Linked DNA regions of Homo sapiens. The protein of the gene in region 2 interacts with the protein of the main gene of each other region in a pairwise test. Each region holds a gene or a part of one and is shown on either strand. Other genes may lie near its edges.

Region 1 (7,330 bases), on a different chromosome or scaffold from region 2:
GTACAGAGCTACGAGCTGAGGGGACATAGTGAGGTGTGACCAGAAGACAAGAGTGCGAGCCTTCCGTTATGCCCGGACAGGGCCACCAGAGGGCTCCTTGGTCTAGCGGTGACGCCAGCGTCTGGGAAGACGCCCGTGGCCAGGCAGACAGACTGTGGTCTAGCGGTAGCGTTAAGTGTCAAGGGAAAACACCCGCTACTTAGCAGACAGGAAAAGGGAGTCTTCCTTTCCCTGGGGGAGTTTAGAGAAGACTCTGCTCCTCCACCTCTTGTGGAGGGCCTGACATTAGTCAGGCTTGCCCGCAGTTATCCGGAGGCCTAACCGTCTCCCTGTGATGCTGTGCTTCAGTGGTCACACTCCTAGTCTGCCTTCATGTTCCATCCTGTACACCTGGCTCTGCCTTCTAGATAGCAGTAGTAAATTAGCGAAAGTACTAATAGTCCCTGATATGCAGAAATAATAGCGTAAGCTGTCTTTCTCTCTGTCTCCTCTCCCTCTCTGCCTCGGCTGCCAGGCAGGGAAGGTCCCCCTGTCCAGTGGACACGTGACCCACATGACCTTACCTATCATTGGAGATGACTCACACTCTCTACCCTGCCCCTTTCACCTTGTATCCAATAAATAACAGCGCAGCCAGACATTCGGAGCCACTACCGGTCTCCGCGCATTGGTGGTAGTGGTCCCTTGGGCCCAGCTGCCTTTTCTTTTATCTCTTTGTCTTGTGTCTTTATTTCTACATGCTCTCGTCTCTGGACACAGGGAGAGACCCACCAACCCTGTGGGGCTGGTCCCTACAGTTAGATTTCTTAGAATTACAGAACTTTTGCCTTTGAGGTCTATTATAAATAATTCTTCTAACTTCTCTCAATTTAATGGTGAGAAAATTATAGCTCAGAGAAGGAAGTCACTTTTTTAGTGTCATGTAGCATTTTGCTAGGACTTGCAACAGGATGACATAGAAGAGCATAGAGAGTATATTTGTGAGATATTTATAAATTCTCTACTCCATACGTTTTTTCTCCATCTCATTTTGGAAGTAGGTGAATGAAAAAAAAGGTACACTCCTGGGAATAATACCTTCCACTTCCAGATTTACTGTTCAGACATACCCCTCAAATTTATTCTAAAAGTTTACTATAATGTCCCCAAGACTTTCTGCCCCAATGCTAATTGCATCACCAAATTTCTAGGATTTTACATTTTGCTTTTGAAAAATAAGACCTAATCCAGCTATATCTCACCTGTCCCAAAGTCAATCTAGAAGCCAGAAAATGTTGCTTTGTAAATTTTGATGTTCACCTTTGGGACTATTATACCTGATCCATAATTGTAGCAGGAGAGCTCTGTGAAATTCTCAGGTAGCTGAAACTTTTTCTCATCACAGGTTTGAAAGATGCGAAATGTCACTGTAAAAGAAAGGGCATAATGTTTGTTAGTCTTATTTCGGTTAAAAATGTCAGTTCCCTCAGTTTTGTATTTATAACAAAAGTGCCAATAATTATCATGTTTTTTCTTACAATCTGCTTTTTCTTACGACCCAGAGAAAATAGATATGTTTGCACTACCTCTTATGCCAAGTCCAACTCTCTCTACCCTTCCTTCCAAAAGTAATTAGTCATATCTCTGGTGCCGACCAGTAGTTCAAGCTCTAAGGCAGACTCTCCTAGAGAAGGTTACACTAATGATAGAGGCTGAAAGAGGAGGATTCAGGACTGCCAAGGAAGTGAAAAATGTCTATCATGAAAAGTAAGTCACAGGTGATTAAAATTCAGAAACAGTTCCCTGCTTGTTGAGGTTTCTGGTTTGAGAAATAACCTAGAGATTAATAGGGAAAAAAAAAAGGGTGAAATAGAAAGACCCTTTGAGGGCAAAGAGAGTCTACAGGCAGCATGGAAGAGTTTTCTCCTAATATGCACCAGGAAGAATTAAATTGAATTTGACCTTCAGAACCCACCAACACATCTGGTGATGAAACAGGCACTGAGAAATAGGATGGGGATCCCAGCAACAGTCCATAAGAACATTTGGGAAGAGAAGCATCCTCTCTCTGTAGAAAGAAAGACACAAACATGATCAATCTTCCCTAAGCAAGGTACAAAAGAGATAGAAGAGATTCTTATTCATCCTTACTTATTTCCTTCTACTTCCATTGTTTGTACTGAGTAATTCCCAAATTTCAGCATGCTTCAGAATCACTTGGAGGGTTTATGGAAACACAGATTGCTGACCCTTACCCCCAGAGTTAGCAACTCAGTAGAGTTTGTATGGAACCAACAAGTTCCCAGGGGCTACTGCTGCTGCTGGTCTGAGGACCACACGTTTAGCACCCCTGGAGTAAGACTCTGACTCATGAACTCAGATATACAATTTTTCCTTTCTAAGTCTCTCAGTTAAATTTTTTTCAGTATTTTCTAAGGCCCCCCTTCTTTCTTTTTCTTTCTTTTCCCTTTTCTCGTCTTTGCTTTTCTTGTCCTTCTCCTGATCTTTTTTTTTTTTCTGTGTCTCACTTTTCAAGCGCTTTGTAAATTAGGTAAAATGTTAACAGTCATCTAATAGTTCCTCTCTTCCTCCCATTAAACATTTTACAGACAAAGAGAGTTCCAGAGAAGTGAAGTGACTTGCCAAAAGGGACACAATGTATTGCAGAAAGGGTGGAAACTGATAGCTCTCCCTTAGCTAGAGGCCAGCAGGCTTTCTGGTATAAGAAATAGTCTTTAAATCTCTCTCTCTCTCTTCCTCTGTCCCCCCACTTTTTTTTTTAACTTCAGTGAATACTTTTCTATTGTCCTGTCTTTCACCATATTTATCACTTGTTCCAAAAAGAGATCTATGGAAGGAAAGGAAGAGTTGCAGATTTTACCTGTGCATTGTGTTTCAGATGATTTAGATGAATTCATTTTTTCTCTCTCTTTGGTTTTTTGTTTCTCTCTCTCTCTTTTTCTCTCCCTCCCTCTCTTTCTTTCTCCTCAGGAGTGTTTTGTTGGTAAGATTCAGGGAGAATGAATCTTGAAAGATAAACACTTTGTCTTTTAGGAAGTTCAGCTCCGATAGATGTAGAATATTAACTTGTTCTGTGGCTACGCATTAAGTCAGGATTTCCTTTCTTGCATAAGGAGGACAAGGAAGTTTATTGGACAGCATGTCAGTTCTCTTCACTCCATGTAACAACAAAATGAGGAAATTATGAAATGGTAAGCATCAACACAAATAGGCTAGCCATGGGGAAACAGGAGAGTTTTTTTTTTAAATGTTGTTTCGTTTCGTTGGACCAAATGTCTCTAGTTTCTTCAAGGCATAACTCATCCCCCAGTTTTTCCTTGACAATATGGAGCTCACCTCTGCACTCTGAATTTCACTTTGGATCTGTACCATCCACACATTTGGTAACTGAAAAGAAGACTTAGACAACATAGCACAAAGCTGGGCATATAGTGTATGTATTTAGGACATGGCAACCTGAATTTTTTCATCTTTTTTTTTTTTTTTTTTTTTGAGACAGAGTCTCGCTCTGTCGTCCAGGCTGGAGTGCAGTGGCATGATCTCCGCTCACTGCAAGCTCCGCCTCCCGGGTTCAAGCCATTCTCCTGCCTCAGCCTCCCGAGTAGCTGGGACTACAGGCGCTCGCCACCACGCCTGGCTAATTTTTTGTATTTTTAGCAGAGACGGGGTTTCACTGTGGTCGTCAGGATGGTTTCAATTTCCTGACCTCGTGATCCGCCCGCCTCAGCCTCCCAAAGTCCTGAGATTACAGGCGTGAGCCACCGCGCCCGTCCTCTTTTTCATCTTTTATGGTTTTTCTTTCTTCTTCATTTGCAGCTCTTGAATATTCTAATGTTGTGGATTTATGTCCCTCTTATCTTATGCTGACTACTAGGCTGCTACTACTAGGCTGACTACTAGAGTCCCCCTCAGCAGGACAGCCTCATGTGATTAGACCACTTTGAAACTCAGCTTAGTTTTTCACAACATAACGCAGCTTCTGAAGTCTCAGAGACCCAGCAGGCAGTTTAATTCTCCTGTTCTCAATTATTTGGGGATTTTAGTTCTATGTTACAGCCTACAGTAGGAGAAATGTATTTGAAGGTCAGAAAAAGCAATTTCAATTAGATATTAGAATTTAATGGTTCTCTGGGCCGGGAGCAGTGGCTCATGCCTGTAATTCCAACACTTTGGGAGGCCAAGGTGGGTGGATCATTTGAGGTCAGGAGTTTGAGACCAGCCTGGCCAACATGGTGAAACCCCACCTCTACTAAAAATACAAAAATTAGCCAAGTGTGGTGGCACGCATCTGTAATTCCAGATACTTGAGAGGCTGAGACAGGAGAATAGCTTGATCCTGGGAGGCAGAGGTTGCAGTGAGCCAAAATTGCACCACTGCACTCCAGCCTGGGCGATAGAGTGAGACTCTGTCTCAAAAAAAAAAAAAAAAAAGAATTAATGCTTCTCTGGAAGAATAGTTAGATATGTGCCTTCTCCTTACTTAAAGATACTTAAGAATAAGATCACACTGGTCTCAGTTTATTTAAGTTCACGAGTCAGGAGGCATAAGTATGATGTACATGACTTGGTAAATCCCCACATCCAGTGACTCACGAATTTTCCATGTGTGAGAAAATATTCTTGTTCTCAAAGGGACTTTTTATTATTTCAAGGTACTGGTCAATTTTCTCTGCATTCTCTGTTTTATAGTAATACAATTTTAAAAATATCTTTAAATTATATATGTGTATATTATAGAATATACCCATATTTAATATGTGTATTCTCAGCAAATAGCTTTTGATCAGTAAAAAAAGAGAAACTATCTAGTGGATGAGCTATATGAATTATAAAATGATGAACATAATTACCACAGTCCATCTTTTATTAATTACAATCAACCAGCAACCATCAATATTACTAAACAATTGTATGTTAATTTTTATCAATATACAATTAAACAGAAATCAATAAATTAATATTTTTTCCAGCCAAAATGTTTTTATATCTTTTGTTTCATTGATTTTCCCCAAATTATACGAGTAATATGTTTTATGATTAATACTATGAAAAGCATGTGACAAGTAAAAGCCTTCTTAACTATCCTTAGTGCATTCTTCTAAAGTTGACCATGCTTAATGATTTCTTTTTTGGGGGGGGGGATTAATTTTTATTTATTTTTATTTATCTTTTATTACACTTTAAGCTTTAGGGTACGTGTGCACAACGTGCAGGTTTGTTACATATGCATACATGTGCCATGCTGGTGTGCTGCACCCATTAACTCGTCATTTAGCATTAGGTATATCTCCTAATGCTATCCCTCCCCCCTCCCCCCACCCCACAACAGTCCCCAGAGTGTGATGTTCCCCTTCCTGGGTCCAAGTGTTCTCATTGTTCAATTCCCACCTATGAGTGAGAACATGCGGTGTTTGGTTTTTTGTTCTTGCGATAGTTTGCTGAGAATGATGGTTTCCAGCTTCATCCATGTGCCTACAAAGGACATGAACTCATCATTTTTTATGGCTGCATAGTATTCCATGGTGTATATGTGCCACATTTTCTTAATCCAGTCTATCATTGATGGACATTTGGGTTGGTTCCAAGTCTTTGCTATTGTGAATAGTGCCACAATAAACATACGTGTGCATGTGTCTTTATAGCAGCATGATTTATAATCCTTTGGGTATATACCCAGTAATGGGGTGGCTGGGTCAAATTGTATTTCTAGTTCTAGATCCCTGAGGAATCTCCACACTGACTTCCACAATGGTTGAACTAGTTTACGTCCCACCAACAGTGTAAAAGCATTCCTATTTCTCCACATCCTCTCCAGCACCTGTTGTTCAGCAATAGATTCTTTGATTTCCCTTTTTAAATATCATCCAGGAACTTATCGTCTAAGTCCCTTTTCTAAACTATATTGCCTGTCAATATTTCAGGCAACTGAAAAAGAATCAGTAAAAGCTGTAAACATCTATGCCATACGAGTATTGTTAGTATCTACTTTTCTTTGATGCCAAGAGAAACATCACTCAATTTTAGCCTTGGGGCAGATTTATTTTTTGTCTTTTCATCTAACATGCAATCACTAACTGATCCCAGGGCTGCTGCTTCCCAGGTTGACGGCCAGCCCTTTACCCTTGAACTGCCATCTATCTGTAAGCCACACTGCTGCCTTGACAGCTGACCAGAGAGAGGGGCCTATTCAGCTATAGGTTTAGCCAACTCCTCAGGGGAACCAAATTTATGGTGACCTGTCAGCCACCTGACTGTGCATGCATTGGGTAACCCCATTTCACATTCTTGAGTATCTCCTTTCTATTCAAGGAGGGAATTCTGTGCATTTCATTTCTTGTTGGAATGATGATATGATATAAATAGGATGTTATGAGTTTTCAAATAATTTTATGTCCTTCAGTACAAAAAGCAGTTTCAACTAAAACCCAGTAACAAGCTAGCAATTCCTTTTAAATGGTGCTACTTCAAGCTGCAGCCAGGTAGCTTTTTATTACAAAAATCCCACAGGCAGCCACTAGGTGGCAGTAACAGGCTTTTGCCAGCGGCTCCAGTCAGCATGGCTTGACTGTGTGCTGCAGAAACTTCTTAAATCGTCTGTGTTTGGGACTCGTGGGGCCCCACAGGGCTTTACAAGGGCTTTTTAATTTCCAAAAACATAAAACAAAAAAAAATACAAATGTATTATCTTGCTCAAAACTTCAGTCAAATTTAGCTTTTTTCTTGATAACTTTATTAACAGGGGTATGCCATTTCTCCACCACATTAACAAGCCAACATCTTTGCACCTCTTGCTTTCATTTTGGAGCTGGCAGAGACAATTACTTATTTTTGGTTGTCTGAGGGATGCCTCTCATCTCCCCTGTCCAGGTGATGCCTAAGAATTTTACCATTTCCCCTGGACCCTGTTCTTTAGTTGGGTTAATCAGCCTCATATGATTAACAAGCATTATACAGTAATTCAATCTTTGCTAGATCTTCAAATTGAGTTAATATGACATTAATGCAGTTAATAATATTACTTTCTAATTGATCACATCTAAGTATCTTCTTGCCAAGTGCCGTGATAAAAAGGAGAATTTAAATAACCTTATGGGAACATAGCAAATGTATACTGGAATCCATCCCACATGAATGTGTATTAGCTTTGATTTTCTCCCTAAATAGAGATAGAAAATAAGGTTTTAGGCAAATAGATAACAGAATATTACTGTCTTTTAGCTTTTAGCAAAGCTTGAATTGTGATGCCATCTTGGGTACAGCTGATGCTGTTGGAAGCATGATTTTATTCAGTCCTCTCTAACATACAATTCATCTCCAGGATCCACCAAGT
Region 2 (2,973 bases):
TATCCCAGTGAACCAGTATTAGCATACAGTTCCCTCTGTTTATTGTTGTATTCTTTCTCTCCCTCTTCAAGACTCAATGATGAGGCACGGCGGCTCATTGCTGATTTGGGGAGCACATCTATTACTAATCTTGGTTTTAGAGACAACTGGGTCTTCTGTGGTGGGAAGGGCATTAAGACAAAAAGCCCTTTTGAACAGGTTAGTGTCATAGACTCTCAGAATTAACAAAAACAAATTCTGTGAAACCTTACGGTACATTTTCCCATCCCAGCTATTTGAAAATTAGATAAAGCGGATAGTAAATATGATCATATATTTGTCATAAATTCTTGGTAATCAGTTATTTGAAATAACTATCGTACTTTTAAATTTCAAAACTTGAAAATTCTGCATGGGAATATTTTTTCCTACAGGACAATGCATTGGAATAGGATTACCTATCTTAAGCCTTTTCGGAAGCTTTAGTTATTAAGGATTTTAATTGAGCTTTGGATTTTAGAATCAGTGAAGTTTGGAAATATTTTAGAACTTAGTAGAATGTAAATGTTAGTTTTTGAGTAGCAAATAATCCTTTAAAAGCACGTGCAATGTATTCTTTCAGCTGTTATTTGAAGGTCTGCCATGTATGTGATACAGCCTGAGGGTCACTCATTTAATATCTTGACCAGTAATTTAAATGAACTTATTGTTGACATGAGTATTACTGAAATGAGAAGTGTGTAAAATGTTACGGCAAATCAGCAGTTTACAACGGTTTTTTAAACTGTATATTATTACTGTGTTCCAATAGCACATAAAGAACAATAAGGATACAAACAAATATGAAGGATGGCCTGAAGTTGTAGAAATGGAAGGATGCATCCCCCAGAAGCAAGACTAATGGAAATGTGGAGAGAATTGAAGAAAGCGCACTTTCACTCTTAATGGGAGAGCTATAAATGGCAGAGCTATGTGTAAATATTTTAAGAGCATGCAGCCATCTTGGTGTGTGCATGAGTATTGTCTCTTTTGATATCAGGATTATTTATTGCTAACGTAAATAGATAGCATTGTAAATAATCATCACAATGATCAAATCACTGAACCATGTCTCCGCACATTTCCCTAAAAGTACAATGTTTAGACTGCTATGGTAATACATATTTTAAATTCTAAAAGCATACACAATGTGTAACTGAATGGTTTGTGAAAAATATATTGATATATATACTAGTTGCTATGAAAATATCATGGAATAATAGGGATTTTAGGGTGGATACTTTATTTTCTTTTATGTTTCTATATGTTGCGTTGTGATGACATTATCTTTTAAATTAAAAAGAGATTTGGCTAGTTGTGTGTGTAATGTTACTTTACAGTCCGACTCTCCTGATGTACCTCTTTTCATGATCTTTTTCTTTCCTTCCCAAGAAACTGAGGAATGTTTAATATGAAAACATACATCGGATATGTGAAAAGCACAACAAAATTCTTAATGTACACAGTAAAAAAGTAAATATATAAATGTAGATGGCATTTAGGACCACAGCTTGCTGGATTTGTGTTAGCTATGGGAATAACTTGATTTTGTATAAGCTATTTAGAGTGAGGCTGGAGGTGGCAGCTTCACAGAACTGGAGAACCAGGCCAAGTCCCCTCCCCAACCTAATTAGGTCATTCAGGACAGCTAAGTCAGTATATTTAGAGCAATACTAGCATACGTTTTTCTTAATTGTTATCAGCATTGACCAAGTGGTTTGGAAGGAGGCATGCTTTAATATCACAATAATTTTGATTTGTAAACCAAGAAATTAATCCTGTGTTTATCTAACTTCATAATAGCAATTATTGCCCGAAGCTATAGTGGCATATTTACAAAAGTTCTTATTACTGGGCGGACTGATAACATTTAAAAAATAATTGTGTTTGACCCCAAATGACTTTATACCCAATTCTACATAAAAATATAGAAGATCTATCTTTTTTTGTTACCTTCAGATGTTCACTAAATAACTCAGTTTTTAAGCAGAAGTTTTCAGGGCATTAAATATATGTTGTGTATGAAGTATCTCAAACTGGAACATAAATTTAGTGATCAAACTGCCATTCACAGTGTAAGGCAGCACTTAAATTTCGAACCTAAAGTTTAGATGCATTGTATAAAAAAACCTAAAAGCAGTATCTGTTATTTAGCTGTAAACCAAGTTGGAAGCTATTCGGATAATTTCTTAAATATTGATGAACTTTGGAGTACTGTTTCTTCCTTCAAACTGAATGTAATTAATTCATGAATAAATGCACCTTATATGTTTAAACAATCTTTGTATACTTTTGGGATTTTTGGTGCTTATATGCTAAATCACATTCAGCATGTGTATTTTGACATTTAAAATACTTCCCTCAATTCTGTAAATTAAAAGAATAGTTATTTTACAGTTCCAGGGATTGTGAAATAAATGTTGCAGTTTTTTAAAATAATGAAAATAAATACTCTTGGTTTTGCTTTGTGAATTTTTTTTTTTTTTTGTATTATCTGGCAAAGTAATATACCTACAGAACTTCACAAAAACTCACACAAGGTTTTTCAAGCATTTATTATACTGCCTAACTTGGAAAAAAAATTGTTGCTGTGGTTAAAAATAGTAATATCCTAGATGTGTCTTAACATGTAAGAAGCTAAGTATCTAGATGGCGGAAAAAGCCCTTTTATTAAGACTGTAAAAGGATAGCTTTTCCAGATATATAAAATGTTAAAAGAAGACAAAGATTGGTTATGTTAACTGGTGTGGTTTCCTTTTGTCTCAGTTCAATCTTGTATAGATTGTGCCAACTTAACTTTGAAAGCAATAACTTTATACTACATTTTCAGATACCTCTTTAAAATCGGTTTTAGACATGAAACAGTGCTCATTTAATATTAAGAATGTTCTTTATTAAAATCAAATTAACATTGACATAGTATTTGAAATGGTGCTTATGGGCTTATCGATGCAT

Evidence for each region. Proteins that work in one complex are often made in the same cells at the same time.
Region 1: the proteins of FAM3C (region 2) and CLEC4E interact in binary tests that used the Homo sapiens proteins (3 or more experiments, as listed by UniProt).

What each region holds. Positions count from the first base shown.
Region 1 is NC_000012.12:8,537,901-8,545,230, forward strand, and holds the start of CLEC4E (C-type lectin domain family 4 member E), read right to left. Parts: upstream 3,006-7,330; 5' UTR 2,898-3,005; coding exon 2,861-2,897; intron 2,048-2,860; coding exon 1,955-2,047; intron 1,407-1,954; coding exon 1,317-1,406; coding exon of another isoform or gene 1,300-1,316; intron 1-1,299.
Region 2 is NC_000007.14:121,348,368-121,351,340, reverse strand, and holds the end of FAM3C (protein FAM3C precursor), read left to right. Parts: intron 1-71; coding exon 72-198; intron 199-790; coding exon 791-880; 3' UTR 881-2,463; downstream 2,464-2,973. UniProt on the Homo sapiens protein: May be involved in retinal laminar formation. Promotes epithelial to mesenchymal transition.